Linked DNA regions of Homo sapiens. The protein of the gene in region 1 purifies or fractionates together with the protein of each later gene. This does not show direct contact. Each region holds a gene or a part of one and is shown on either strand. Other genes may lie near its edges.

Region 1 (6,149 bases):
ATCTCGGCGGGGTCTCAGCGGCTCCGGATGCCACTCGGGATGCCCACGCCCTAGGCGGCATTTTGGGGTGTGAAGGAGGGAGCTGGGCCCCGACAGAGCTCCGAAGCGTGACCCTGATCGGCACCTCAGCCCACTAAGCTGCGGCCGCCCGGGCCCCCAGGTCCCCGGCTCGTTTCCCAGAGGCCTGCCTCTCGGTAGAGCTGGGGCACAGTGAAGCGAAGGGACCCCCGCTCCCTTTACCCCTGATGTCGGGAAAGGGGAATCCTGACTTGGGGTCCCTGTAAAAAAATGGAGGACTTGAAATTAATTAAGAAATGCTTTACAATAGCCCTCCTCCCGGCCCCCAGTGTTTCCTCAAGCTTGAATCCTTACCCACGGCCTCTGCGATTTCTCAGTCCGCTGAAAAGAGCCCCTGAACCCCGCTTTCCACCCCAAGCGAAAGCGAGCACGCGGGGTAGATGGAGGTGAGATGACCCAAGGCCGCAGCAGCTGCGCCGAGTATTTTTCCGGGTTTTCTCAGCTTAGTTTCTTCTGCTTCCCGCAGTCACACTCATCTTTCCTAAAGTTTCTGGTGAGACCTTTTGCACCGGAAAACTGTTCAGGTTAACAGTTTGTACACAAAAAAGCAAACTAGAGATAAGAGAGCATTATATAGTGTGTTTTGTAAATTTGTACTGGTTTTCTACATTTAAAAAAAAAAAGTCTCGGCCTTCGAGGAGAAATGATGCGTGGAAGATCTTTGCCTTTTGCCTTCAGTATCAGGAATTTTTAATAGTTAAGTCTTCTCATAAAGCAATAATATAAAAGGAGTTCACTACCTCTTACCATTATTCTTTATTAGTACTATTTTTTTCAATTTAGTTTATTTGAGCTTTGAGGTAAGTTAAGTAACTCAATCAAGTTTCCTTTCTTTCTCTTTTCTCTCCTTCTTTTGATTTCTTTCTCTTCCTTCCTTTCTTTTTTCTTCGCAAAAGCTGGTACATTGTCCTAAAGAAGCAGTAAACTGTTAGGGGCTCCCTAGGAAACACCCCCTCCCAGCCTTCTTTCCTCACCTCTCCCCACCCCCTCCTCTTTTTCTTCAGTAGTAATGGTTTTAGGTTATGACTGTTTTTACATGGTTGAACAATAAGTTTGGGAGAAGTTGCCTAGAGGGTAGATTTTGTAATAGGGTTTCAGGATTTAGTGTGTTGTAATAATATTAGTACACAAGTAATCCTCCCCCAACGCTGGACATACAGGAGGGCCTAACATACTCCAGTTCTTTTATTTGGGAGTAGTTCTGAAATAAATGGCATTGAAAGTTCATGACATAACTCAAGGTTACCTTTTAAAAGTCACCTTTTCTGCAGTGAGTTCAGCAATCTCATTCTTCTCCCCACATATAACCCATACTTCTAGGAGTAGCTGGATTTTCTGTTTTGTTTTGTTTTTTACGTAAAGAAACATTGTTATATTTTTAGAAGGCAAGCCCCTTTTCAAACATTCTGATTACTTTTTCTTATGTCTTGAGATGGTCTTTGAAATATGACAAATGAAATATGAAACATACCAAATTAAATCTAGTTCATGCACTTCTCATTTATCAGCACCTCAGATTGTATGACTTCTACCCAGAGTGAGACCTAGAAAAGTTTGTAGACCTAAGTTACAGGAGCCCTAAAGAAGCAGCTCCCAAAGCTGAAAGCAGCTAGGGCTGCTTGGTGTTGTGTGTCCTGCCTGTGTGTGTTTGAGTGTGTGTGTGCTTACAAAGAAAATCCAGACCATGCTAAGGAGCCACACAGACAGCTTCATCTGAAGCAAATGCAAACAAAATACAAAAACAAAAACAAAAATGAGTATTTGGTCGATTTCAGGATGCTGGTATTTTATTTTACTTTAGTGTACAGCTGCTATGCCAGAAACACTCTAAACTTGGTAATTTTTCTGCTTCTTATGAAACCAAGATTATGGCAAATATGACTTGTCTCCTAAATGATATTCAACAAGTCTTGAATTACTTGCAGAAAGATGACTGCTACTGGAAAGACTGTTTATCAAGTTAAATAATTCTGAGGAAAGGGAATATTACAATCTAATGATTTTATATGTGGGCTCTTTACTACAAATTGGGATTTCAGTTATGTGTTTTGTGTGCGTAAGTGCATGTGTGCATGTGTGTGTGTGTGTGTGTGTGTGTGTGTTGGAGTTCTTCCTTTGGTGGCGTTTTTAAGATTCCTGTAACTTCTACATGGATGGCCCATTTAGACTCCATTCATTTATTTAAAAAGTATTTTGGTGCTCAGTTTTTTCAAGGAAAAGATAATATTGGAAGAATGAAACACCATGAATTGCAGATAAAACACTAACAATCATATGAAGTATCATAAAAATTCCTCTTATTTATATTAATAATGAAATTCTATTATTTAACCGAAGTAATTTGCTCATTTTGAGCAGCTTCATAGCAACACATTGATCTCTGGGCCCAAAAGGTTAGCGAGAACTGTAATTAATTGCTTTTTTTAAAAAAAACCAACACCTGCAAGATAAGGCAGTTGGAAAGAATTCATGTTTAATCAGAGCTGTTTTAAGTTTGTCATAATGGAAGATTCTGAATGAGAAAATGCAAACTGTTTTTTTTGTGATTTGCTTCAGGCCACACATACTTTGTAAAATATTAAAAAACAAACACATAAATGAGCAAAGTCTAGTTAGGCATGAGGGTAGTATGTGTGAAAGTGAATATGTGATACTGAATGTTTTGTGGTTTATTTTACATCACATTTCCCCTAGAGTTCATTGGCACAAGTGCCAACGTATAGGTTCTTCTTTGGGGGCTCTATTTGTTTTCTTTATACTTTTGGAGGTAGCAAGTTGTCTTTACCAACAGAACCTTTTAGAAGGTAGAACTCCACATTTTTATGGTGGAGATCTTACTGGGGCAGAAATAGGCAGACTGGTTAAGTTTTTGAAATTGTCAAAAGCCAAGCTCTGTGTAGGAACTAGAATAAACTCCTTCTACAACCTCAACTAGGTTTTTCTGAGACACTTCTTGGTGCAGATAGCACCAGAATATTCCAAAAATATTCTTAGATTATTAAAACTGAAGTAGTTTGGCAAAAGAGGTGGAAAGTTAACCAAAGAACTAACACCCCTCCCCCCAAAAAAGAAAAAAGTTTATGTGCCAGGCTTTAGAAAACCTAGATGTGTCAAGCTGTTTTAACCTTTGCTAGCCTCCTCCCATGCAAAGGTGACAAGGTCCAGATCATAATATGTCCTTCAGTATCTTCCCAGTGACCCCCAAATTGAATCCTGCTAGTCACTTAGCAGGAAGTTAGTAGTTTATTTTAGTTTCACCTTATCAGCTTGGCGTCTTTTCCTAACCTTATTCCCCTGTCACCCTCAGATGCCAGACCCCCAAAGGGGAAGATTGACAGGTAGTTCCCATAGCTCAGTTTTACCCTCAAACAACAGGGATTTAGTTTCTTGTGCCTTTGCCAATGTTTATGTAGTCAAAGTTTAGATCTCGCCTTAAGGAGTCTCTTTTTTACGCGTCACTGCAATAGGAAAGCCACAAAGAAGTTTTTGAACAAACCCTTGCAACTGGAACCCCATCTAGTGTTCAGTTTGATTCATCCATGGGAAAGACATTTTCCCCTTTCATTTATTGTGTACATTAGGTGGGCTTGGATCACTATTTTAAAAGCAACGCCTCGTCCATGTTGTTATTTTTTCAGAGATTTCACTTGTATTCTTCCACAAGAGAATACTCTAATCCCCGTCAGAACAGTGAGTGAACTTGAAGGGTACCAGGAAATTTGTCATTTGGTGGCATATCACATAGAGGAAACTTTAGACATCACAGAAAATATGCACAGCATATGTCGTAGTGTTTAAAATTTCTTTGGAATCCTAAGTTGGATTCAGACTTTTCCATTTGGATTCAGACTTTTCCCAGGTCGATGCAGAAAAAAAAAAAAAGAAAAAGAAAAAAAAAAAAAAGACCAATCAATCAAATATGTTTGTGATAAAAAAAGGAACAGGCTGTTAAAATTAAGGACTCCTAAACCACTATCATGAGAAATTCTATTAGGGAGTGTAAATGCAATCTTAAGATAATGGGAAGTACAGTGAAGTGTCTTTCTGAAGAGCTCCAAAAAAGAAAACTAAACCTAGTAGAGTAAGGTGGTTGCATTTGTTTTTTGTTTTGTTTTTTCCCTTCCTGGCTGGCTAAACCTTTCTGTGTGGGACATAGTTTTATTTTTATTTTCTCAGTAGACAGATATGGTAGAACACTTCAATTTTCTGCTTCCGACTCTGCAGTTTGGTTCAGATGATGAAAAACTGACAAATTTGAATTAGGCATCAGGTACCTAAATAGTACAACAGGAACTAAAGCATCTGGGATTTTAGTATAAATTTGGTGGAGGTATAAGATCACTCTTCCCGCCCCCCCAACAAAAGGCCCAGAAAATTCCAAATATCTGTTTGTGTGCACATACTTAGAAAACCACTGCTTCTTAAATTTTGCTATCTGACTAGGGTTGCTTACAAAATAATCTGTATGCAAAATCCATAGAAAAGGAACAGGAATGTTATTTTCACCATAGTACAAGGAACAAGGCAACTGTATTTACTATAATGGGGTCACCAGTTGCAATCTTGTGTAACAGATTACTGAGAGAGATACAAGATAGCAGACAATCAGAAAAATTAATTATAACATGTTCGTGTGTACGTGTGTGTGTGTGTGTGTGTGTGTGTATGTGTGTGTGAGAGAGAGAATGTGTGTGTATGTGTGTGTGTGTATCTTACTACAAATTAAAATATTCCCTTTGGTAAAGAGTCCAACTAGTCCTCATGTTTTGTCTTTTTTTTTTTTTAAGTAAAAGACTGTTTCCTTGGAATTTTGTTCCGAATGCAGATAGATTTCAAGTTAAGAATTATTGCAGTGTAGCGACACCTGCTTTTGAAATAAATCAAAATAGATACCAGTATTTTGGGGATGTGGGGGTGTTCATAAACATCAGGAAATTAAATTAGTTCACTCTACAGTGAGATCAAATGTCAGCTTATTAAAAATGTTGTGAAAACCTAAGCTAAAATATGGACAACTTTTTAACACAGTCTCTTAAAAGCAAGCAGGCATTTGCATTTATTTTTAAACATCTATATTTTCCATCCAGTTAGCACAATCCTAAATATAAAAATGTTTAGATTGAAAAACTTGAAAATTCTCAAGTGAGTCTCGAGGCAGCACAAATGCAGAATTTGAGTGCAGGAAAGTAATAATCAGCTAAATCCTGTAAAGTAACCTTCCTTTTATTTTCTCTGTATATTATGAGAATATCAGATGTTTGCAAGTTATAAAGAATTAAAATCTCTTTTAATCGTGAGCACAGATGTGCTAAATATTTGAAGCAACTACATTGTAATGTGTACAATTGATGAAGTCAGTTTTCTGATTTCCCTTGCTAGTTATTTAGTTCTGAATCTGTCATTATTTGTCTAAGCCCAGCTGACCAAGCAAAACTGTGTTTTAAAGTGGCTTTATGTTTTGATAAATGTGAGCTGGTTGAAAAGTATTTTCCACTGAATGCAGAGCTTAATAGAACATGCTGACATAATAGTTTTAATGCATTTTGTTGAAAATGTGTGAACAAACAGAATAGCTTTTGTTCCTTCATAATTGGCTGTAAAAGTAGATGGAAACATAACCATTACATATGGAAATGTGCAAAGAGAAAGAAATAACATTTCTGTTGAATATATTAGGAATTGCATTTCCTAGTTTAAAATAAGCATCTGAAATGGATGCATCATTTAAAATTGATTGTCAAAATAAGAAGCTTTAAAGAGAATTTTTGTCACATTATTTTTGTCCCAAGTTAAGCAATATAACTTCAGCAAATTTCATCTAATATTTTGTTTATATGATTTTAAGGCAGGGGAGAAGCAGAAAGGGCTTAAAACAGCACCTTCCATGTGCATAGGAATCCAGTGCCAATTAGAATGCTTAAACATTAAATTAAAACCAAATCATTATTGGTATTTTCTGCTGCAACTAAGATTTGTTTGGTGGTGTTAATGCATCTTGCACTATGCCCTTGTGGAGATTAAAAGATGGGTATTAGGAAAGCTAGCTTGTTAAGTATAACTTAGCTACTCAA
Region 2 (6,149 bases), on another chromosome or scaffold:
CTTTATCGATAATAGAAATCAAATCTCAGTTTCCTAAATGCACATTTCGTGCTTCCCGAGTAACCCAAAAGGAGTGGTTGGTCTGGCATCCTGGCAGAAGCAAAGGGATTGGAGAGGGTGCAAGCAACTGCTTTCATGTCTAGTTTGTGGATCTAGCTGGGATTCCTGAGATGTTTAACTTGTGCAGTGAGGGGTGTTCTCATTAATGGCATTAGAAAATTATGTTCCGTTTTAAGAGAAAAATAGCAAGTCAGCATTTGAAGTAAAAGTGTTTTAAATGAATCTGACCAAAGAAGAGAACTATGACGTTTCAGACTTGCAAATAATATCTCCATTAGCATATGAATAATATATGTTAGAGACTTAAAAGGGGGGTTTAGACCATTTAATATTTTTACTTTATAAGGTTCTACTTTAATTGTGTAATGTGATCAAACTTTTCTCTGTAGAGACTTTTCTCCTATAGATCAGGATCTTGCCCAGCCTTTCTTCCCTACTCCTCCCTGCATAGGGCACAAGTAAAAGCAAAGTTTTCATTATTGGTATGATGTCAACACATTTTGAAAAACCACTAAAGATAAATTATTCTTTGATCCAAAATCCATAAGAATTTTGTAGTAAGCCCTATGTTCTTTCTTGTCCACCAAATTGCCTAGCCTTATTAGAAATATGCTTGTCATATACACAATGTACAACAATGCCTGACATGATATGCTGTGGTTTCTAGGCTTGGATTGAATTTGTTTTAAATATTAGTATAGTGTTGGAATTAGCAAATCTCAGCTATTCTTAAGGTTAACAGTTGAGCAAATGTGTTTGCTGGCAGTGGGTTTAGTGTTAAGATTTTAAATATATATAAAAAAGACTAGTAGATATATTTATTTATTACCACCTCTTCCACAAGGGATTTAAGATAGTTTACAGGGATTCATAAATATGGCAAGGCAGCCTAACTTGGAAGTAGTTGGGAAAGAAAAAAGGACACTAAGGGTGGAGTCATAAAATGGTCTTAAGCGTGAGGCTGATACAAAAACATGAGCATGAGACCTTCTACAATGGCTACGGGCAGGAAACAAAAACAGCTCTAAACTTTCTTGCAGCATAAGCAAAAAAGAAATTGACGAACCCATGGCTTATATGTTTTATTTATTTGTTAAACTCATTCACACACTTCTTCACTCAACAAACATTCAGTGAGGACTTACTACGTGCCAGGTTCTGTAAGACGTACTGGGAACAAAGGGATAAAGCAGATAGACGTGGTCTGTGTCTAATGGGCGCTTAAAGACAAATGCAAGAAATGGACACTCATCAAGAAATCTCTCAAATGAATATATAATTACAAATTGTGATAACAGCTATGTGGGAAAAACACAAAACACAAAACATTATATGGCCAGAACATAAAAACACAACAATTCTTTTTTATTTTTTATGTTTTATATTTTTTTGAGACACAATCTCATTCTGTTGCCCAGGCTGGAGCGCAGTGGCATGATCTCGGCTCACTGCAACCTCCACCTCCTGGCTTCAAGTGATTCTCACGCCTCAGCCTCCCGAATAGCTGGGACTACAGGTGCGTGTCACCACGCCCGGCTAATTTTTGCATTTTTAGTAGAGACGGGGTTTCGCCATGTTGGCCAGGCTGGTCTCAAATCCTTGGCCTCAAGCGATCCACCTGCCTCTGCCTACCAGAGTGCTGGGATTACAAGTGTGAGCCACTTTGCCCAACCAACAGTTCTTGATTCCGAGACCAGAAAGGAACTTTTTCCTAATGTGACATAGTGTTTGAAATGATGCCTTCGATCACCTCCTCATCAGACACAAGGACAAGTTTCATAGGGTTGTTTTTCACAATGGCCCTCAGCATGAGCTAATGATATCATGCCACAGGTCTCTCAGCCCCCTGGGGTTCTGAAGATATACGTATTTTGAAAGATCTGTGTATTCTCTGACATTAGTGGTTTTATTCCAGTGATAATCTTTTTTGCGGAATCTTGCTCTGTCACCCAGACTGTTTGAGTAGGGATCTTGCTCTGTTACCCAGGCTGGAATGCAGTGGCATGATCATAGTTCCCTGTAGCCGGGACCTCCTGGGCTCAAGCGATCCTCCCACCTCTCCCTCCTGAGTAGCTGTGACTACAGGCATGAGCCACTATGCCTGGCCTATTCCAGTGATAATCATAAATAATTAGCAGTAAAAATGTGTTCTGGATCATCTTGATGGCAAGGCTGAAACTGATGCTGGAGTCTGCGTTTGCCTTTGTATCTTTCCATTTGAGCCATGGGCAGGCCTGGTGGCTCCAGCCACAGCCTGGGTGAAGGGAAGGGGAGTTGGAATAGTGGAGAGAGTGAGTCTACACAGGACACACACAACTTGCCAACTCCAAAAGAACAGCTCCTGGCGACCACTGCTCTATTGGCAGGGATTGAAGATCTCACGCCAGTTCATCTTTGTATGGATCAAGTTTGCAGCAATTTATTAGCAGCAGATGTAGTAAAAACACAACAGAAAAGTTGCTGTTGTGGATTTTAACAATATTTGAATTAGATCTTCATTTAATGCATATTTAGTAACTCTCCAATAGGTACCTTACATCTAAGAAAATGAGATGGGGCCGGGCGCGGTGGCTCACGCCTGTAATTCCAGCACTTTGGGAGGCCGAGGCAGGTGGATCACCTGAGGTCAGGAGTTCGAGACCAGCATGACCAACATAGTGAAACCCCATCTCTACTAAAAATACAAAAATTAGCTGAGCATGGTGGTGGGCAACTGTAATCTCAGCTACTCGGGAGGCTGAGGCAGGAGAATCACTTGAATCCTGGAGGCAGAGGTTGCAGTGAGCCGAGATCACACCACTGCACTCCAGCCTGGGCAACAGAGCGAGACTCCAACTCAAAAAAAAAAAGAAAAGAAAATGAGATGGGTAATTTGTTCTGATGGTTAAGTGACACCAGACTGTCTGACTTCAAAAATTATTTTTCTACTTACTAGCTGTGAGAGTTTAGGCAAGTTATTCAACCTCTCTCCTGCTCAATTTCCTATAATAATATAGGAATAAATATATGGCATTGATTGCATGGTGATATTATAAGAATGAGTTGTTACATGTGAAAGACTTACCTATTGCAATAAATTAATTTTATTACTTTGATATTTTAAAGTGGATAGTTGTATTTGTACATTGTTTTGGCATTTTAATAATATAAAAGCTGTAAAGCATAGGTGTTTAGAACTGGTATTTATGAGTATACATATTTAAGTTACATTTTAATAAAAGTGACTTAGGTCAACCATGAGGTCATGAGAAATTTTTTCTGCCAAAAGGGATGTTTATATAGTTTAAGCATTTTGAACTATGTACAGGGACACACACAGATTCTTGGAATAGAAATTTGAATCTTTAGAAGAGATTGCAGCCACAATATTTGACTCCACATACATTGGCTGCTACAATTTTAGCCTGAAAGAATTTTAAAGCAATAATATGAAAAACTGCCTGTCTTCAATGACAACCACCACCAAATCTTCCAAACTCGAAGAGCACTCATGGAATGGCAGGCTTTTAGTAAAGATTTCATCCCGGTCTGTCTTCCAAGATAAACTACATAGGAAAGCTTTGCCAATGTTACTGAAAGAGATGAAGAGAAAGTGTATCCTCTGTGGAGTCTAAACTTCAGTTGTATAGATTTAAATGAGTTTATTGATTATGTTATTCAAATTTATTTTAAACTTTTCTTTGTACCTAAGTGATCTGTCAAAGAATACAAAAGATGTTAGTCTCAAATGATATTTTTGGCTGGGTGTGGTGGCTCACGCCTGTAATCCCAGCACTTTGGGAGGCCGAGGCAGGTGGATCACCTGAGGTCAGGAGTTCCAGACCAGCCTGGCCAACATGGTGAAACCTCGTCTCTACTAAAAATACAAAAATTAGCTGGGTGTGGTGGTGGGCGCCTCTAATCCCAGCTATTCCAGAGGCTGTGGCAGGAGAATTGCTTGAACCCGGGAGGCGGAGGTTGCAGTGAGCCGAGATCACACCATTGCACTCCAGCCTGGGCAACAAGAATGAAACTCCATCTCCAAAAAAAAAAAAAAGAAAATGAAATTTTTGACCGCTTTCCTTTTGCTATGTCCTTTAGCATGCCCTTTAAATCCATATAATATAGTTATATTTATATATTTATTTGATATATAATTATGTAATTATATATATAAACATGTATTTGTGTATATTTTATATGTTTTTACATAGTTATATTTGATGCTGTATTACTCAGGGCCCTGATTGCCCAGGACTGATGGGTTTTCTGGGATGAGGGATTTTCAGTGCTAAAGCTGGGACAGTGCCAGGCAAATGGGGATGACTGGTTATCCTCTGTGACACAAATGTTGTGACCCTTGACTCTCCATTGTGGGGTGAATCTTCCATATTTCCAGACCTGCTTTGTCTCATTGTATTTTTATTTTTGTCTTAAATTTTACTGTGTGATAAGAAATCTGGTCCTGCCTTCTTTCTGTTTCCATTTCCCTGGTGTGATGCTCATTCTCTTTCTTCTTAAGCTTTCTTCTTTTACGTCATTTTGATTTTTGTCTATTTTAAGCATCATAATTGGATTTTTAATCCAATTGTGACTCAATTTACATTTATTATATGTGATACAGTCACAGATCTTCTAAAATTTTATTTTACATTAAAAAAATTCCAAGCTATTTTTCCACCCCCTTTCTTAACTTAAATGTAGTGTAAGAGTCCCTTGTTCTTTAGATAAAAGGGAAATTTTCTGCCCATTTTTTTCTACTAGTCTTCATTAACATTAAAAAATATAGTTGTGTTGGCCAGGCGCGGTGGCTCACGCCTGTAATCCCAGCACTTCAGGAGGCCAGGGCGGGTAGATCGTGAGGTCAGGAGATCGGCCATCCTGGCTAATATGGTGAAACCCCGTCTGTACTAAAAATACAAAAAATTAGCCAGGCGTGGTGGCGGGCACCTGTAGTCCCAGCTACTCGGGAGGCTGAGGCAGGAGAATGGCATGAACCCGGGAGGCAGAGCTTGCAGTGAGCCGAGATTGCACCACTGCACTCCAGCCTGAGCAACAGAACGATACTCTGTCTCAAAAAAAAAAAAAGTTGTGTCTATTTGTTCTTTCATAAATAATGAGAGATTTAGTATACTTTAATTCCTTCCTTCCTTCCTTTTTTTTTTTTTTTTTTCTGTCACCCAGGCTGGAGTGCAGTGGTACAATCTCATCTCACTGCAACCTCTGTCTCCTGGGTTCAAGTGATTCTTGTGCCTCAGCCTCCTGAGTAGCTGGGATTACAGGCACCTGCCACCACGCCCGGCTAATTTTGTATTTTTAGTAGAGACCAGGTTTCACCATGTTGGCCAGGCAGGTCTCAAACTCCTGATCTCAGGTGATCCACCCACCTCGGCCTCCCAAAGTGCTGGGATTACAGGTGTAAGCCACTGTGCCCAGCTTTAATTTCTTTTTTGTTGCCCATCTACCCCCACTAACTTTTTGCCTTAAAAACATTTTGGCTTTTAGATCCAGATTATTGTCTTTAAAAAAAAAAAAAAGTAATGCATGCTTTTGCTTTCCAGAATTATTTTTGACATTTATGTTTCCTAACCATACTAACAGCTGCTATCTAGACTGAGAGTTACATAGGTTACAATACTCAGTCCATTTCCTATGCTCAATCTTCATTTTTACTTATTCCTTGATTAGTTGGAATCTTTTTCAGGAAAGATAGTATATTCCGGTAGTTCTTGCTTGCCTAAGAACTTCTTTATGTTGCTGTTTCACAGTAACATCATCCTTTTGGGGCATACACTTCTTCATCTTAATCTTTTTACCTAAAAACTCCAAATATTATTCTTTTGTCTTCTGGCATTTTGTATGATGGAAGATAAGTTGTGGCCAACTTTATCAAAATAACTATGAAAGTCCACAAAAGTTTTGTTTCTTTCCCTTGTAATGACTACTTTATTTAAAAAAACCTTAAAATATATAAAACATAACACAGATATAGGAAAGGACATGAAACAAATGTGCAGTTTAGTGAAATATTATAAAGTGAATGCCCGTGTGACCACCATGCAGGTCAAGAAGCAGGACACAGCCAGCTCCCAGAGCCCAGTGCACCCTTG
Region 3 (6,889 bases), on another chromosome or scaffold:
CGCTTTAATCTGGGCACGACTAGAGCGCATGTCCTGTCTCATCTGCGAAAATATTCCATAGACACGTTGTCACTTCGCAATAAATCTATGGTTGCAACTCAGGCTTAAAATGCAAATGCTTTTATTAAAAGTTGTCGCACTGAATAAGAGCAATTAAAGAAAAGTTTCTGATCTGAGTATAGAGAAGGAAGAAAGGCGGGAACAAGCCAGTCAAGAAGTCGCACGCCTTTTGTTTTCTACCTTTGCTTTCTTAAAAAATTGATCTTGTTCACTTGTCAATTTTTAAAAGGGTGCACCGCAGAAATTACTCGTGCGCACCATTTCCGCTGTGGGGGCATTCGTACAAGTTTCCGCTGCACACACAGCCTCCCGGGCCCTCTCCTCCAAGGCTCTGCCGGATCTTCCAACGAAATCCCAGAGCAGCCTGCGCTGGGGAGCCCGCAAGTCTCTCCAGATCTCTGCACCCCGCACCGCCCGGAATCTGGGACGGCGCCCACGCAGGGCTGGGCCAAGGGCAGAGCTCGCACCCTGCCTTCACGCCCGGTTCACTTGCGTCCACGAAAGCAGCGTGCCGGCCTCCTCCATCTTCCCACTCGCGCAACGCACGGCGACCCGCGCGACACTTCTGCAATCTGAAGGCTTGCTTCTTACAAATAAAGGGCCAGAGTCTCACACTTGCCTTCGTTGGAGGGACTTAGAAGATCCTCCCCACGTCCACACCTTGTAGGAAATGCAAAACAGATCGATGAAATTAAACAGTTGCATTTGGAAGCCCCAGAAAGACCTAAAGACATCGTGCCGGTTTGTTGGAGAGAGGGTTGCGGGACAGGGGGAGCGGGCCTTACGCAACAGAAAAGGTGGGCACAGCGCGCTCAAAATGACCCAGTGAGGAGTTGGTGCCGCCGGGCCAGAGGCTGCGAGTCCAGCTGGCTCTGGACTTGCTCCGCAGGCGTCAGACGCCGTGGGAACCTGTGTCTGCTTCTTCTCTCCAAAGTGTATCGGTTAAAAAAAAATAAAAGTAGTAGTAGTAGTAGTGGTAAGGAAAAAAATAAAAATAAAAAGGAGACACAATTAACCAGGTCATAAAAGCTAGGGCACCTTCGACCAGGGCTCTGGCCCTCCAGCGATCGTTTTGCGTTGTTTCTCTTCTCAAAAGTAGTCTCAGACCCCTGCCTTTCCGCTGCAGCTCTGCGACTTCCCCAAACTCCTTAATCCTGTAAATTCTGCAAGAAACTCCCATCCTGCAAGCTGCTTTTCCCCCTCCCCCCTGCGTTCCTTTTTTCTCTCCCCACCCGCGCCGCCTCTCTATGCCCCTCTCTTCTCAGAAAAATTCCTGCCCCCCGCGCGCCCCAAAGCCCGGGCTGCAAACTTTTCCCCGCCGGGCGCCTCTGCGCCAGATGCCGGAGCGTCTCCACAAAGCCTGAGCATCTGCACAAGTTCGCAGCCTAACTGCGGGATAAAGACGTTTCCCCCGTAGCTTAACTAGAAAAGCGCCATCGATGGGTGTGTTAAACGGGATAACTAGAGATTTCAAACACCTTTTATTTGCCTGTCTTGAAAAAAAAATCTAAATGAATACGCCCGCTACCAAAAGGCAAAATAAAACCAACCTTAAGGGTTTTTGTTGTTTTTTTTTTTTTTCAAAAGTGGCGATAGGGACTGTTTGGACCTGACTCCAACCTGCGCCCTCCCTTCCTCTATGACCCTCCTGCGCTTTTCCTGGAACCCAAAGCTCTGACTTCGTCAAACTTACACAATTAAAGGCAGGCGGAAGAACGCGGGCTGGGAAGCAAGCGGGAAGATTCTAGAATGGAAGGGAGCCCGCCGAGCGCCGCGAGCCGCGCCAGGCCGGGTCCGATGGAGCAGGCGGGGATTCCTCCCCCAGGCGGACCCCCGCCACCAGCCCTGCCGGGAGCTCGCGGCCTGCGGAGCGCCCGGGCTGGCCGCTCACCGCCCGCTTCCCCCAGCGAACGACTCGGGGAAGCTCCAGGAGGCCATCTGTGCTGACGGTTCACACCAGACAGGACCACTTGCAAGGACAAAAATAAGAAATTTAGGAAACGAAAAAAGACGTACTGGGGCGAGGGGCGCGGGCGCGGCGACGACGGGGCCGGGGGCACATCCTGGCGGCCGCTCGGGGAGAGAGGACACGCGCGGGAAGGAGCGCGGCGGGTGCACGGCCGCGGGTGGGAGTACGCGCCTGTGCGCGCGGGGCGAGGGCGAGGGCGCGTGCGTGTGACCGCGGGGAGGGGGCGGGCGCGTGTGCGGGGAGCGCGCCGCGCCAGGGGCCGAGTGTGTGGGGCCGATCCAGAAGTGCGCAGCCCCCTCACCTGGCCCCCGTGTCATCCCCGAAATCCCGGGAAAGGGTGGGCCGCGCGCGGGAGTTTGGTGGAGTTGGAACTTTCGGTCGCGCTCGCTGCCCACTCCGCTGGCGCCCGGTGGCCCGTGGTGAAGGGGGACTAGGGTGGGGAACACCGGGGCCCTGCGGTCCCCTCCCTTTCCTGTATTTAAGAAGCCGCCGGCGGCGCAGAGGCCCAGGCGGGCTGGCGCGGGGGCGAGGCGGCCCGGTGGCAGCAGCGGGCGGGGCGGGCGCTCCGGAGTCGGTGGGGCCCGCGGGTTGGGGGGCGGGGAGAGGGGGGAGTGGAAGGGAGGGGGAACGCAGGGGAGGGAGAGGAGGGGAGGAGCCGCGCGGCCCGCGCCGCTTCCGAACCGGAAAGTTGGTCTTGCCGAAGTCCTGCCACCCCGGCGTGCGCACTCCGCTCCGCTCCGGCCGCGAGCCTCCGAGCCCGGCCGGCCGCCGGGGGAAGCCCGCGGAGGGGACGCGGGGCCGGGCGAGAAGGTCCGGAGAGCGGGGGGCACCTGAGCCCGGGCGGGCCCGCCGCGCTGAGCGGCGCTGAGAGCCGCGGCGGAGCAGCGAAGGCGGCCGGCCGACCCCGCGCGCCCGGAACAGGAGGCGCGGCGCCCGAGCGGCCCGGGCGAGACAAAGGCGCCGGGTCGGAGCCCTGCCCGCGGCCGCTCGCTCCGGGAGGGGCCGCCCGGCGGCGGCGGCGGGGGGGGCGCGGGCGGCGGCGCAGACACTCTATAAAGGGGCGAGCCCGGCGCGCCGGCGGAGACGGCGCCGCGCGGACGCCGCCAAAGTTTGCTGCCTGCGCCCTGCGGAGGGACGGCCACCGCGGCCCGCGCCGCACCCGGGCCCCGCCACAGCCGCACCCGGGGCGGCCGAGGAGCGCGGCGCCGGAGCCCGCGATGTGAGGCGGCGCCGGGCAGCGCGCGCCCCGGTCCCGAGGCGCCGCGGCCCCCTCCTCGTCGGCGCGGCCGCTAATTGCGAGCGCGGCCTCATTTGCATAGGCCGCCGGAGTCCGCTGGAGCCCGGCCAATCGGCGCGGCCCTCCGCTAATGGCCATGCATTATTCACCAGCCTAATTGCTCAGCCCCATGCGCGGCCCGCGCAGCCGCCGCCGCCCCGCGCCCCGCGCCGCGCGCCCGCCAGGCCGCCCCGCGCCGTCCCCGCCGGCCGCCCCGCTGATGCCGCTGCCCCGCGCGGGGCCCGAGCGCCGCTAGCAGCATGTCTCGGCGCAAGCAGGCCAAGCCCCAGCACCTCAAGTCGGACGAGGAGCTGCTGCCGCCTGACGGGGCTCCCGAGCACGGTGAGGGCCGGGGCTGCGGGGTGGCCGGGGGGTCTGGGGCTGCCCGTCCGGGCTGGGGAAGCGCGTGCGGCGGGAGCGGATGCGCGCGTCCGGGAGCGGGAGAAAGTTCCCTGCTTCCTGCGGGCAAGCGTCCGCCCCGCGCCAGGCCGGCCGCGGGGCCCCGGGTACTTCGCCGGAGCGCGCGCGGCCGCCGAGAGAGTTGTGGGCGAAGTAAACTTGGCTCCTCTCCTCGGAGTCGGGGAGCTGCCCGCGAAGGGCGCCGAGGCCGCGGCCGGCTCGAGGACGGCTCGGAGGCCGGGGCGGGAGGGAGTCCACGGTGCCTCCGCCGCCGCGCCGCCCCCCAGGGTCTCTGCGCCAGGACGCTGAGGCCGGCGGCGGCGGGGAAGGCGACCGCAGCCCACCTACCGCTGGACGCGGGTTGGGGACCCCGCCGCCCGGCCAGCTTTGTTCGGGGGCCCGCGGCCCCTCCCGGGCCCCCGCACCGCCTCGGGTGACCCGCGGTGTCCCAGCGCGTTGACGCAGCCTGTGATCCCTCGCGAGGCGAGGAGAAGGTCGGGGGCTTGGCTCTGCCTAATGGCCGCCCGGGGAATTAAGCTGGGGGTGAGCGCAGCGGCGGCGGCCTGGGCCTGGCCCCTGCTCGCGGCGTGTTTCCGGGGCGTTCGTTGCAGCGTCTGCGCGGGCCTTTTCTCTCCCGTCTTTTTGGATCCGCCGAGGCCGGGCGCTGGAGACCTCGGCTTTGCAGTCATTTCGCTGGTAGGAGCGTCCTCTTCGAAACATCCAAGAGCAAAGGGCAGGCGCCGCGAAAGTTAAGAGACTGGCAAAGGGCTGGACTTCCCAGAGTGGCGCCTTAGCCCCGCAAAGTTTGGGGCGCCCCCACCCCCTTCGTCGAGTCAAAACCTCGGCCGGCGGCGCCCGGGCTTCGGCGCGCCCCGCGGGGCCCCCAGGGCGCCAGGAAAGAGGGCCGAGGAGGGGCGACCCCACGACCCCGAGCCCGCAGCACAGCTCGCAGTAAAATAATTTGCTCCTTAAAAAAACAGGCAGGCCAACTTTTATGATTGACCTGTTATAAGTTGTTGGAGGCAGATGGTGATCTTTTTACTCTGAGAATGAGACTGTCTGCGAAAAGGAAACGGGGCGGAAGAGTTTCCCACACAGTGGAGTAAAGTTTGACAAAGCGGGTAGACACCCATGTCGGATGAGAACGAGAGAGCATGCTTATGACGCGGCTGGAGAATTAATGAATTAAATAAAATTAGTGAGCTCGCTGGGGTCTTTTTGTTGCGGTGGAGGTAAGGGAGTCTTATCTGTGTAGCCAAGTCAGCCAAGATGAGAACAGGCGATATGCTAAAAAGAAACGCTTGCATATGGTGGGTAGATTAAGGACAAAGAATCTTTTTGTCATGGAAATGGATTTTTTTTTGTTTTGTTTACTTCATCACATAGAATTTCTCACACTTGGTTTGTTTTGTATCGCCCTCAATGACTACATGATCAAATGAATGGATTTATTTCTGCCGAATGAGAAAGACAGTCTTTCCTTCAAAAGAACTACATTGCGTCCCAGTGAGGAATTTTAAAGCTTTATTATTGTGGCTCCTGAATGGCTTAAAATCGGCTTTCACAGCCGCCCCAAAATGCAACAATGTAAATACTTCTCAGCTTTGTAGGGTCGGTATCAAAATGTGCGATGTCTCCTTTTATTAAAGCATATTTTAATTAATAGAGTAAACCCCCTGGTATTTAACAATTAACAAGCTGAGGCACTGCTATTCATTTTTAATTTCACTTCAGAAATGTGAGCATGCTGAACTTAATAGTGTAAACGTGTGGAGGGCTATATCGCCTATATTTGAAAGCCTAAGATGGGATAAATTATTCACAAGTTCTACTTTGAATCCCTCTTGTTGCTGCTCGAATTTATTTAGAGATGCAAAATATTCAGGTTTTTTACCCGTGGTAGAATTGAAGTTCTTGTCAAGCCTGTGTTTTTCACAGCATCCAGAATTGTAATCCAGACGTTGCCACAGTTCCTGGTCATGTTTTGCAAGAGGCCCAAAATACCCTGTGTGGGGCCGAGTCTTGGTCGAGCAGCTCACATGCTTGTTTGAGAGAGTTTAGGCAAACTATTTTTTTTAAGTTCTTTCTCATTTAATTATATTCGAAGCAGCTTGTTCAAGGAGCATAACAGACACTCTGTTCCGTGTTAAGTCAAGGAATGCCCCATTTGTGTATTACTCGGTCGCACTCAGCATCGTTCCTAAGATAACTAAGTAAAAATTATAAAAAGGTAAATGGGTGTGGAAACCAAATTACTCCAACCTGAGTCAGATCTCCTCAAAATTTTAATTTTGTTAAATGCAATGGAAATAAACAGACCGTGCCGGAAGTTGCAAGTGAGCTCAGTTAGTTTAGTGTTTTAGAAACGAGGTAAATAATTCCTTTGTATCACTCGGGGAGTGACATATTAATTAAAGCAGCAGGTCCATCTACATGCAGTAAAATGGAAAGCTACTGATAATGTCCTGCAGAACAAATATTCTATGCAAAAATGTTTAGTATAATGGGGGACAGAGATGCACTCACATTAATTTACAGCACAAAGCCTGTATCTCTTAAAAAAGAATTATGATTTATTTTTGAAGCAATGAAAAGATTCTATACAAAAATAACTGGTGCTACCCAAACCTTACCACTACAGGAATGAAACATGACGTGTCTAGAATGAGAAAAAGTAAGGATAATTTATGTAAAGTTCTAAAGTCATGCTTTTGTTAAAAAAAAAAATTAAGTCATTGAGACATTCCTAACAGAAATTGCTTTTTAAAATTACTTACTTGCAAATGATCTCATTCCTATTTTAGAAGAAAGGCGCTGCAGCTTTAGGATCCAGTGAACTTTGCGCCACTAGTAATCCTGTGAGCCAGCTGAATATTTTTGTTCTAAGAAAAATTAATTAAAACTTCCAATGACAGTTATATGCCCACTAAGAACTTTAAAAGATACAATACTGCTATTCTTTATTGTATAAAATATAATTTAAGAAAGATGTATTTTGTTGTTGTTAGAAAATATGTATTTAAGAAGGAACAAAAGGGTATTATAATTTAAAACCATTTACCATCCTGTATTTTGTTTGTTAGCACTAATTGCTTCAAAGTGTGTTTTTTTTTCTGCCAACTTAGAAGTATATGGCTGTCTTAAAAATCCTTTTAAATGTGTTGAGCATGTGATTTAAGAATTTA
Region 4 (6,149 bases), on another chromosome or scaffold:
CAGTAAAACCAAGTCAGACTCTACATCTATCTACTTCTCTGACGCCACTTACTCCAGCAGGAGCTTGGCACGTGTCTGGCAGAAAGTTCTTGCTGTTAACTATTTTTAAAATTAAATGTGTGAATGAAAGCTACAACATAATTCACCTTACAGTGTAAGGATTTAGATGTTACCACTGGAAAAACCTCTTATTTTATATTCCCAGGATTCATTACATCCTTTAAAAGTGTGCTTACTGGCTGGGCACGGTGGCTCATGCCTGTAATCCCAGCACTTTGGGAGGCCGAGGCAGGTGGATCACGAGGTCAGGAGATCGAGACCATCCTGGCTAACACGGTGAAACCCCGTCTCTACTAAAAATACAAAAAAATTAGCCGGGCATGGTGGCGGACGCCTGTAGTCCCAGCTACTCGGGAGGCTGAGACAGGAGAATGGCGTGAACCTGGGAGGCGGAGCTTGCAGTGAGTCAAGATAGCGCCACTGCAGTCCAGCCTGGGCGAAAGAGTGAGACTCCATCTCAAAAAAAAAAAAAAAAAAGTGTGCTAACTATTCATGAAGGTCATACCTATGCACAGATGATCAGAGAAATCCTGCAATTTCCTTTGACCGCAGCTGTTTTCCCATCTGCCATACTGGGTAGCTGACTCTCTCAAAGGTGTCCCTACACCACCCCCAGACATCCCCTCCTTTAGTGCCTACTGGCTCACAGGCCTCCCTCAGAGCTGGCTGGTTTTCACTGGATTCCAATACAGCAGCTTTTTAGTTTATAATTTCTCCTCTGTGCTTAAATGTTACTCATCCAACTCAAACGTTATAATATAATCCAACATAAATTATTTCTTACTAGCAAAGGTGTTCTTATTTATATTAGTGAGTCCATAATGTTGCTCTATTAATAGTAATACCTACATTTTTAAGTAATCTTCCCTGTCAAGAATGTTTTCTATCCATTTCAAGGTCTAGAGTTTAGCTTCCTCAGAAGGCCTCATTTGGATGTCCAAGCACCAAGCACGTAATAGCATGGAGTACTGGGTGCTTTTTATGGGTGCTGGGCAGGCAGCCATGCCCCACTAACTATGGACATAGGTGAGGCACCTTAGCACAGCACCTAGCATATAACAGGCATTCAAAGAAGTTAATTCTCTCTCCCTAACTTCTTTTTCCTCTGTTTATTTTAGATCTTCAGGCTTCGAGAGGCCCTTGCTTCTTATCACTCAGCAAATCTCAATGCTGTTGTAGACTCTTAAGATTTACAACTCAGGCAAGAAATTACACTCTAGGCCAAGATGCGCAGTCCATTCAGTTCAGCCTATTCTAAACTCGCTTGTTTTGGAAATACTGAAATTGTTGCAGAACAAATAGCCCCAATTTATAAATTGCGTTCCCAAAGTTCATTTTTAAAGTGGGATAAAAACATTTTTCCTAAGAAAACATGATGTCATATTTAAGATCTCAGGCTGTCCCCACAAATGGGGACACTTATGCCACTATCTACCTGGCCTGCGGAACTAGTGGCAGGAGCCTAGATCCAGCCCACGCCTTGTCCACAGCAGGCTCTCGGATATGTGCTGGGCTCAGTTCTGAATTCCTGCAAAGCTGCATCGCTGGCTCCAGAGAAAATGTTGATCCAGCTGAGTCTATGTGTATCTTTCTCCCATCTCGCTGTATGCACCCCTCCCCTCAGCTCCTAGGCCTCTCTTCTGCAGGAGACCAGTGCCCTCATCTTGTCCTGCAAATCCTAAACTTCAGCATCTTACCAAAGCTCCATCTTTTAATGCTTCAAAGGCAATTGCTTCTTCTCTCTGCAAAAATTACCTCAAGCAGCTAATCTCAGCTGTGCATCAGGAAGAATACTGATTATTTCACAATGAAATGTGAACGCCTCATGGCCTTTAACCTGTCCAGAGACCTCTGACTCTTAACTACCCAAACAAATCTAATTTTGTGGAAGGACAATAAAAGGAATGAAATACGTCTACACAGCAGACAAATCCCACTAAGGGCCTGTTTCTGAGACATTTCTGCTTTTCAAAAAGCAACTTCCTTCTCTTCCACCACTTTGAAAACGAACAAATTTTCACAAGTTCCAAAACTTCCGAAAGTTTCCATGACAATGGCAGACATATGTTTATGGTGATGAATGGAGTGCACACAGGGCCAGTGTAAGATAGGTCCTAGCTTCGTCAGTGTTTTTCCCAAAGTGGAATGTAAGCCAAAGCATTCACAATTCAACCCAAAACATCCTCAAACTATCATCATTTCCAAACGGAGAAGCAGAAGCTACAGGTAAGATTCAGATGTTGACAGATTTTCAGTTTTACTCATCCTGGCATGGCCAAAAGGGTACATTAGAGATCACTAAAAGGGGAGGGGAGGAAATGCCACATAGCTCCAATAAACCCTTATGTTTGTGAGGGAGAAAGAACTGGAAATCATATTAACAAATACCACATAAATATGTACAATTATTATGTGCCAAGTATAAATCTTACAATTAAAAAAAGAAATCAACAAATGCATCCTAAATGAGAACAAGAAAGTGGGCAAAGAAAGTAGATATTTTCAGAAAACAGTAAAAAAAAAAACCAACTATACAGGATTCTGCATGTACACTTGTTCACTCTTGCTGCCCTGAGGCATTAATTACTTTAAGAATAAAAACAGAAAACATCAAGTTGGCCAGGGAAAGCAAAAAACCTCGATACTTAATTAGAACACATGCTTGAAGTTGCTGCCTGATATCAGCTTCAAAAAGACAGCAGCCTCATTAAGAAATGGCACAACACCCTTCTGGCGGCAGGCAAAGGCTTAAAATCACGTCAGTGCTGGGGGTCTGAAAGGGGAAATGAAACTGAGTTTACCTACATCAATTAGCAATGCTATTAAGGCTACTTAAGCCACTCCTCCAACAATATTTCTAATACAAATATGCTGCAGGCCTTCAGAATAAAACAAGCCATTATCCCTACCCGTCATCTTGGCTTTCATTACTCCCACCCCAAAGAGTGACACATCAAACAAACAAAGCGCCCTGCCCATGCGCTGGGCCTTTCGGCCAAGATCTCCAAGCCTATGACAAGCGCTTATTAATCCTGACCACACCCAACGAAGAAGAGCTGGCCACTCTAACCTCGTGACTCTCCTGGGGGATCAAGGGGAAAGGACTGAGCTAGTGAACTGAGGGACTAACCCAAGGTCATGGATAAGTTGGAAAAGGGAACTCAGGACTTATGGGCTCTTTATCGCCTCCTCCACAATTTCTCAGTGAGGCCCCAATGGCAAACAGCAAGTAACACTCCAGTTTGCTTTAAGAATAAAAGCATCCTGGGGCACAAGGCCAATACTTTTCATAGGCTGTTCGTAGTAGCCAGTGGACTGAGTCCTATTATGATATTTAATTTCAAAACAACTGTAACAACAATTATATAAAATGGAAAGTTTCTCTATTTATTGCTTAGCCAAGCAACAAACTCCGGACTATGCAGCCACCTGACAATTGTATGTGACTGAGGTGGTTGGCAGGAAAACCCTTCTAAAGCCACAATCACCTAAAGCTTCCTCACTGCCTGGTGGGCCCAACTGCCTAGAGTCTGCAGCCTGAAAGGCACATGTTTGTCTTGGACATGATGACAACGATAAGAAAGAAAAGCAATTATAATACAAGCAGAACATGGCTCTCAAGACCCAGTCACATGATTTTCAAAAGCATTCTGGGGCAGGATAAAATGAAACCCTAATAGTCAGCACCTAATACAGTGTCTTATTCTAAAAGTTACTAAAATTCTTATTGAATAAATAAAAGAAAAAGTAAAAAACAGAGACTGAGAAAGGACAAGAAGATGAACATCACTTCTTTCTACCAGGTCTCTGAGAGAATGCTATACCTAATATTGTAAGGAAAACTAAAGATCAGTCTTCTGTTAACAACTGTCTGAAAAATCACCTATGTTTCTATTGAGTTTTTTTTTTCTTTTTTTTGGGGGGGACAGGGTCTCACTCTGTTGCCTAGGCTGGAGTGCAGTGGCGTGATCTCAGCTCACTGTAACCCCCGTCTCCCGGGTTCAAGCGATTCTCCTGCCTCAACCTCCAGAGTAGCTGGGATTAGAAGCGTGTGCCACCACGCCTGGCTACTTTTTGTATTTTTAGTAGAGACAGGGTTTCACCATGTTGGCCAGGCTGGTCTCAAACTCCTGGCCTCAAGTGACCCACCCGCCGCAGCCTCCCAAAGTGCTGGGATTACAAGTGTGAGCCACCACTTCTGGCCTCTATTCAGTTTCTTGAGCTCCCAGTTTTTAAAGTAATCCAAAGAAAGAAAGAAATACAGGAACTCTAATAATTGAGTGGAGAAGGATCACACTCACAGGGAAGAAGGCAGGGGCAAGGCAGAAAGGACTTAGGAATATGCTGAATTTTTCTTCAAGGGCACAAAAATTCCCATTAGAGTCGCCCACAAGGAGTAACTCTAGCCAATTAGAGTTACTCCAACTGAACTGGAGGCAACTCTTCAATGGGAAAAGCCCAAGACAGAAGAATCTTAACACAGAGTCATATTTACAAGGTGATGATATGAAACAGAGTACTACTAATAATCACTTATATTTAAGAGCCTTTCTCAAAGCCACTCCAACAGTTTGATGGGCATTGTTTCATTACTCCTTACACCTCCTTCAATAGAGGGAGGAGACAGATATCACCTCCACTGTGCAAATGAGGAAATGAGGCAAAGCAAATGAGGAGTCAGACTCAAGGCTGAACAGGCAGGAGTGGCAGAGTGCAACTTAATCTCAATGTTTCACACACTGGACTCTGTGCAAAGGATGGCAACAAAAATGATCTGTTTTGGAGGAGGGGAGAATAAAAAGGGAAGAGGATAGTTTCATAACACCTGAGAATGAAACACATAAAACTGTGAAAAAAAAAAAAATCAGTTGTCAAATCATTAAACTCCTCCCATTTCTCAAATGGCTGGACATAAGGCGCCCAGACCTCACCACCCACCTTTGCTTCATCGTTGATGTCCCATGTGAAGGAAATGGCGTTATACGCAATCTCCTCGATGTTACTGATAGTGTTGAAGCTTTCTTTATAGTCAGCTACAGGAAGCGGTGGAAGAGAAAATGAAAACTCATGAGTCTTAGTTTCAACATGGGATCCCAGCAGTTCAAAATAAGATCTAGTTTTTAGCATTATCACCTCTGGACAATTTAAATTAACATTTTGTTCGATTAGAAGAAGTTCAAAATACGAAGAAAAAGAATCACAGAGTTTTTGTAATAGAGGCAAGCTTAGACATATTTAATTCAATCTCATTATGTCACAATTAGGAAATTTAAGTCTAAAAAGTTTAAATAACAGTCCCAAGGTCACAAAACTACTCTGTAGAACCAAGATTAGAACTGAGTTCTCATTCTCCTGAAAAGGAAACAAGAGCATTACAAAAGGTAAAGAAAAAAAGTAACACTAATATTAAACAGCCATCTGTGATACAGACAATGGTTTTACATGAAAATTACATACATGGCAAGAACAGAGGTCTGTGTAACGCTACTTCAGTAAATACAGATTTGCACAGGTTTGCCACTACAGCCCACAGAGAGGTTAGTTACACGGTTTAGCACGTGACTAGGGAAGACTGTTAGGCAACTGCACAGCAGCAATATCTTTCTTTTACTTGTTTTTTTCTCTACCTCCATCATCTCCAAATAATAATCAGAATCTTTTAAAGAAGATATTACCCCTTAAAGCAATTGCAGACTGAACAGTGGGGACATTCTCAGGTTAGCCAGCTACATGGCTTCTGGCCCTAGTGTCCTGTGGAAAGCCACCACGTGGGCACATGTCCCATTACTGCATGGGAGCAATGGTGAGAGCACTGGTTCCAGGAGGCCGAGGACAGTGTTTGGAACAGATCAGTAGCTGGCATAAAAATTCAAATGCTTTCGGCAGGAAGCTGATCACTGCCAAAAATAATTGGATTTAGAAAACTGGATGGCTGCACCTCTGGGAATAAAAGCGGGCTCTTGAGCTGCTTACCTATGTCAATGCATCTTTGTTTAGCGGTGTGCTGCCGGGAGTGCCAGTACTTCCAATGCCTTAACTGATCTTCTCTGCTTTTGTCTTCAGCAAAAACCACCATGATCACACTCTGT
Region 5 (6,170 bases), on another chromosome or scaffold:
CGGCCACCCTCTGCTGTTCTATGGCCCTAATTAATACTGGGCTTGGTGACATTTATGTATCAGAGCAGTAAGCTAAACAGGAAACAATTTATGTCACCTAAAGCTTTTTAACAAATCGATGCAACTATTTGTAATTGCTTGTTTCACAAGATTAAAAGTGCTAAGGCCTGATCTTCGCCCACGGATTTGTGGTCAACATGACCTGTGCTTCCGTTGTTTAAAAAAGAAAGAAAGAAAGAAAGAAAGAGTTGGTGATCAGCACTGACTTCCATCAAGTAATCCATATTGCTAATATTTCTGGAATTTTAATGTAGTTACAATTTATAGCCGATCAAATGTGGTTACCTAAATTGCTGTTGCTAGTAGACAGTTTAACTGTCTTTATTAATTACAGTATAATTTAATGTTTGAGTACCGGCACTTGTGTTGGTCATTTTTACAGCTCGAGCAGTTATCTGCCTTATGACGAACCATTTTAGCATTTTCAATGGAAATTTGCTAATATGATGAGTGATAAAAATGTCACACGCTGGTAAATAATGATTATTGCTTTGGCTGAAATTAATTCTTGAAAGGCCGGTTACCTTCAAATTAACATTATAACTTGAAGCTTGTCTTTTTCCCTTCACAATATTTTCAATATAAACCAAAAAAAAAGGACCGTTGATAATTTCAAATGTGTATATATATATATATTTTGGTATTAAGCATTGAATGTCATTTTACAATCAAAGTGGAAATAAGACAACATTGGGTTTTGTTATTTTAAAAAATAAAATACCATTTAAAAATAAATATAAGTAGGTTATATCTAGAGATGGTTTTCTAATCCAAATATTGTCCCACAGTTAAAACCAGTGTTTTTGTATGTAACTTAATTTCCCTCCAACGTGAATTTTGTCTTAAACCTTTCATCAATTCATTAAATGAAGGTTTGAGACACCCAACTTCACATTATTTGAATAAAGAATACTTTTATTTGATTCAACTACAATGAAGATGAAGGATAAATTGTGATTACTACCCTACACATAAATACGTAATATCATCAAAGACAAAAATCTAATAAGAAAGACTAATTATACTTTGTTTTTATCTTTTTTAGTGGGGAGGGAGAGGTGGTTACTATTATGAAGCTGCCTGTGTTGGTGTGAAATTAGTCTTAAGAGTTTTATGTTCTTTATATAAAGGCGCCTATTTATAAGAAGAGCCAATATTTTGGGTTTGCTGCCTCGTTTATGAGAGTGACAAGCCTGAAATAAATATGTAAAAGAGTGTTCCTGCTTGAGAACAATTCCTGAAATATAAGTTAAAATGTACTATGCCTCAACCAGCAAAATCTTCACTAACATATCGTCATACTTGGTTTAGGTCCTCCAGTTTATTAAAAGAAGTATCTGTACATTTTTAAATTTTACTAATGTATAGGCTGTAAGCAGTATTTAGGTTTAAGCCTGGTAATTACAGGAATTTGAATTAACCCTAAGATTATAGTCTCAGTAGCCAGGTGAGAATTAAAGGTTCAAATGTTTTGCTAATTATTGAGACTAAGGGGTTTCTAGATAGGGCATAATTGTTAATTCAAAGAGGACACTAGTTTGCAACTTAATAGCAAAATCTACTTGTTAAAAACACACACACAGACACACACACACAACTTTGCTAATATGGGCTTTTCAAAACAATGCTGGGAAAGAATGTTCACTTGTATCCTCAGCATCGGTGGGTGTTTTGCAGAATAAAGACTGGGAGGTTAATTTTCAAGTCATCCTTTGCCCTGAATTATGTGCTCTGAATTATATATGTAATGGTTTTATGTTACCACGGTTTGGCCACTTAAAATACTGCTTTCATATTGGCAATTTAATTTTTTATTGAAAGGTGATGCTCAAATTCATTAATCCCTAGAATATATACTATAGAGTAATATTAAAAAGAAACAGCACATTTCCTAAATGCATCTAATTATTTTTTTAAAATCTCAAAATTAAGATGGTTTTTCTGGAATATTTAGGTACTGAAGTTCTGTTTTCTTCAATGAATGCAATTATCTAGCATACTTTTGATAGAATATTTTTATAAAATCATTTGTTCTAATCTAAGCATTTATCATTATATGCAAAAAGATTTCTTGATGAGAATATTATAGACGGTGCATGTTTTTGACATTAGCATTTTATTTGGATGACTAATCTTGCAGATGTGAAATTTTAATGAATTATTCATGAAATTGCTTTCCTCTGAAATTTTAGTTTGCTCTTAATGCTAGTTATTAAACATTTTGTTTTTCTTTATAAAATTTGATGAAAAAAATAAGAGTGTGCTTCCTCAAGAGAAAAGATAACATCTCTTGCTCTTTTTTTTTTACTTCCCAATTCTCTAAGTGGATACTTTCACTTGGAAATCCTGAGGATAAGAGCTTCAGCCTTCCCTGATCATGAAAGCTTTAAGATTGATTTTAATTCTGCATTGGAAGCAGCTGGTGATAAACCTAAGGCATATGCCTAACATACAATATCAGCAGGTCAGAAAGGGAAACAAACTTAGGCTGTGGCAACTTTTACTACCAGCGTGAACAACCAGCATTTTTATTGCATTTGAGAATGCTTATAATGTCAGTAATTAGTACTGACTACACAACATTTTTTTTATTGTCTGTATCCGCAGACATGGAATGATGGAATTACAGTTGATGTCAAGGAATGAGTTTCTTTTATGCCTTATCAAAACAAAACAAAACAAAACAAAAAAATTCTTGTTACTGGCAGCACATATACATGAAGCACCATGCTCACAGTCCGGACTGTATCATCTTCATCAAGGCTTATGGGTAGCAGAGATTGCGTGAGCTACACTGGGCCCAAGAAATGCCTTCAGCATTGTAAATCTGATTTTCAGGATAAAGAAGCAAAACTGACTTTGAAGACATCCAGAATTTCAGGAGGCTATGTCATTAACCAAAAGGTACCAAAAAGATTCAAAATCTGAATAAGCACACTCTTCTTTGTGCCTTTGGAAACGGAGTTCAGCTGGAATATGGAAAAGAGAGGAAATATTTTTTAACTCTATTTTTTTTCATGAGGAAAAAAAAGCTAGTGATTTACAGCCTATCTTGGGTTAAGAATCCAAGGTTTTCTTTACTAGGTCTGACTGGATGCTGGGGATGGTGTTAGAGCTGTCCAAAGGTGGCAGGACTGGTGGTAACTCTTCACGTATGTACATAAGCCTTGATATTCCATTTTGTGGCTGGTCCAAGGGGCAGCCTAACTCATCTTACAAGACGGACTCTAGGGACAGGTAGGTTGGATCCTCATTCCTGACAGTGCATTTGTCTGACACACGGGACTACCTCCCTAATGTATGCTTTTCTTTGAGAAAAAAAAAGTAACAGATTTTCTTTACATCTTGGCACCTTGTAAAGTTTTTTTTTTTTTATACAAAAGTTCAATAGTTTTGACACTCCCCATTGTTAATCACTACTTCACTGATAAACTTGGAAAAGTGTGACCCTGGAATTTCATCATGCAAAATATTTACTGCAGCAGGAGAAAACATTTTTTAAACAACATTTTTTTTTCTTTTCAAATGTATGAACTTGTTTAAGATAGCCAGGAAGGCAGTGGTAGGATAAACACAAGGGATAGGAATGTATCAAAAAACAGATTAACACACACGCACGCGCGCACACACACACACACACACACACAAAACCTGTACAAAATGCTCCAATCAATGAGAACAGAAAAAAGAAATCTTCAACTATGTTACAGTTTAAAAGCAGAAAAAAAAAGTTAGGGAGTTTCTCCCTCCCACATGTCAGGAAATGTCATCCAATATTCTTAAAGCAAGGATAACTAAATAAAATACATGTGCAGCATATTCTGCAATTCCGTTACATACAGTAGTTTTTTTTCCAAAGCTATTTTTTTTTAGTATCGTTAATATAAAGCAGTTGCACAAAAAGCAAAGGTGTTTTGACAAACAGGTGTATGCATTTATTCCTTTTTAGGAACAATATCTAAAAAAAGAACCGCCCTCTGCCCTCCCCCAAAAAAGACAAAGATTCACACAGACACATCGGGATATATGTACAACGTAATAAACCCCATCCTAAAGAAGCAACTGGGATAACCCCCAGGGGATACAGAATCAGAATTGTAAAAATCATAGTGAAGTTTGCTTGCTGTAAAGCCTGAGAATTTTTTTTTCAGTTGGTTCTTCTGCAAGGCTGTGATACCTGCAAAGATATGTAAAATCTAATTTTTCTTTTTTTTTTTTTTTTGCTACAGTCTTTAGACTAAGCATGCAAGACATACGACTAAGTGCAACTGAGTGAAATGTTTTTTTTTTAAATTTTAATCATTCCCTAAAGGTTTGAACTGAGGTATGCGTACTAACAGTTTCTCATGCTGTTATCTTTACTCATGTCTAGCTACACATGCTGAGAATGAACTAATCTACCAGATTTTTATCCTCTTTTGAATACCAAACTAACCAGCAACCACTCAGTTTAGAAGCACAGGGCCCCCTTCCCATGACCCTGTCTGGCTACTGCCTGCACATCATGAAGCTGCCTGGAAAAGTTTTTTTTTTTTTTTTTTTTTTTTTTTTTTTTTTTTTTTTTAAAGTCTTGCGTGACCACAGACTGCCCTTTATACAGAAAGCAGAGTGAAGCTTCAAAAGTAACTGCCAGAGAAGTTTTTGTACCAAGCTTATGAGTGGATGGGAGTGTTACTTTTCTTTAAATGAAAAATGCTGACCAAAGCCTAATCGGAAAAAAAGGAAAAATTAAAAATAAAAACAAACTGAAGGATATATGCCAAGATAAACCAAAATTAATACAGTGATCACAGCACAGTTCTTAAACAAAAGTGGCATACAATCTAAAAATATCTCTTTTTCTAGAAATACTATTATGTAATCTAGTTCAATTATGGAAGCTTTTCTGTCCTGACTCTAAACTGTCTCCTTTATTGGATACTCTAATTGCAGTGGCATACATTCATTTTTTTTTTGAGATGGGACTCCCTTCCTTCTGTAGCTCCTTTAATATTGTGTCCTATTTTTATCTGCAGTAGCCCCATAAAATCTCTTTAAGAGAATGAGTTTTGGTCTCTGTAGAGGTACACAAAAAGAAAAAGGAAAAATAACTACTAGAAAAAAGTAACAACTTTGGTTCCATTATCTACTTGGTCTTCTAAATTTACGATGAAGGAGCAGTTCTCTTTCTCAGGTTGCAATAGCCTATCGCTTGTCATTTGCCTCTAAATTCTTTTGCCTCCTTTGATCAACAATAAGAGGATATTTGGCTTCATCAGATAAAGCATAAAACAGAGAACATAATTTACCTTTGTGTAATATCTTTGGTAATTTTAGAAAAAAGGTACAAAGAAAGAATATAAATTAAGCTTCGAAAGGCTCTCGAACTAAAAAAAACTACAGTCCTATATAAATAAATGACAGGAAAGTGGGTGCAGAGCTGAAGTGTGGAGGGGTTCTAAGGACTGAGGTTGTACTGACCTGTAACCATCACATTTCTGCATACCATGTTTGGGACCCCCCCAAAGCCCAGGGCCTACATGATATCTTCTATGAGTTTTTGTGATACTGGGTTGGTGATATAATATTGCATAACAAACTGCAGTACCAAATTTGCATATTTGAAATTAACACTTTAGCATTTGCTGAACTCAGCCCTCGTTAACTCCCTTAACAAGTTCAATCTGAAATCGAATTTGCATTCAAACAGTTTAATGCCACCAAGTAGGTCTGAACTAATGTATAAACTCAGCGCCGCCGCCGCCACCCCTACTTTCAGGGCAGCTGCTCGGGGAAGCCGGTTTTTTTTTTTGGCCATTTTGCAAACAAAACCAACCCACACCCGTTATCGCAGAGCACCCAAGGCCCATGGCAACTTGGTTCCACAAGGGAGAGCCTTCCAAGGCCATATTGTCAGTCTAATTAATATGAGCTTTTTTTTTTTTTTCAGTGCTGCCTATGTTTCCTTGTGCTGGTAGAATGTGGTGGCATTTATTAATGGTTGCTGCAAAAAAAAAAAAAGAAAAGAAAAGAAAAAAAGAAAATCCGAAACACCCCTCCCCCGAACCACCCCCAATACTGCTGCGTGGAATGAATCGGCATTGTTCCTAGAGTTTGTCTCTCTTTTTTTT

The links.
Region 2: the proteins of SALL1 (region 1) and ADD2 purify together in Homo sapiens (affinity purification with mass spectrometry; one large-scale study listed by BioGRID and IntAct). This does not show direct contact.
Region 3: the proteins of SALL1 (region 1) and SALL3 purify together in Homo sapiens (affinity purification with mass spectrometry; one large-scale study listed by BioGRID and IntAct). This does not show direct contact.
Region 4: the proteins of SALL1 (region 1) and GRHL1 purify together in Homo sapiens (co-immunoprecipitation; one large-scale study listed by IntAct). This does not show direct contact.
Region 5: the proteins of SALL1 (region 1) and FOXP1 purify together in Homo sapiens (affinity purification with mass spectrometry; one large-scale study listed by BioGRID and IntAct). This does not show direct contact.

What each region holds. Positions count from the first base shown.
Region 1 is NC_000016.10:51,143,812-51,149,960, reverse strand, and holds part of SALL1 (sal-like protein 1), read left to right. Parts: intron 1-6,149. UniProt on the Homo sapiens protein: Transcriptional repressor involved in organogenesis. Plays an essential role in ureteric bud invasion during kidney development.
Region 2 is NC_000002.12:70,760,655-70,766,803, reverse strand, and holds part of ADD2 (beta-adducin), read left to right. Parts: intron 1-6,149. UniProt on the Homo sapiens protein: Membrane-cytoskeleton-associated protein that promotes the assembly of the spectrin-actin network. Binds to the erythrocyte membrane receptor SLC2A1/GLUT1 and may therefore provide a link between the spectrin cytoskeleton to the plasma membrane.
Region 3 is NC_000018.10:78,976,710-78,983,598, forward strand, and holds the start of SALL3 (sal-like protein 3), read left to right. Parts: upstream 1-3,108; 5' UTR 3,109-3,565; coding exon 3,566-3,647; intron 3,648-6,889. UniProt on the Homo sapiens protein: Probable transcription factor.
Region 4 is NC_000002.12:9,964,231-9,970,379, reverse strand, and holds part of GRHL1 (grainyhead-like protein 1 homolog), read right to left. Parts: intron 6,146-6,149; coding exon 6,034-6,145; intron 5,094-6,033; coding exon 4,999-5,093; intron 1-4,998. UniProt on the Homo sapiens protein: Transcription factor involved in epithelial development. Binds directly to the consensus DNA sequence 5'-AACCGGTT-3'.
Region 5 is NC_000003.12:70,952,150-70,958,319, forward strand, and holds the end of FOXP1 (forkhead box protein P1), read right to left. Parts: 3' UTR 2,559-6,170; downstream 1-2,558. UniProt on the Homo sapiens protein: Transcriptional repressor. Can act with CTBP1 to synergistically repress transcription but CTPBP1 is not essential. Plays an important role in the specification and differentiation of lung epithelium.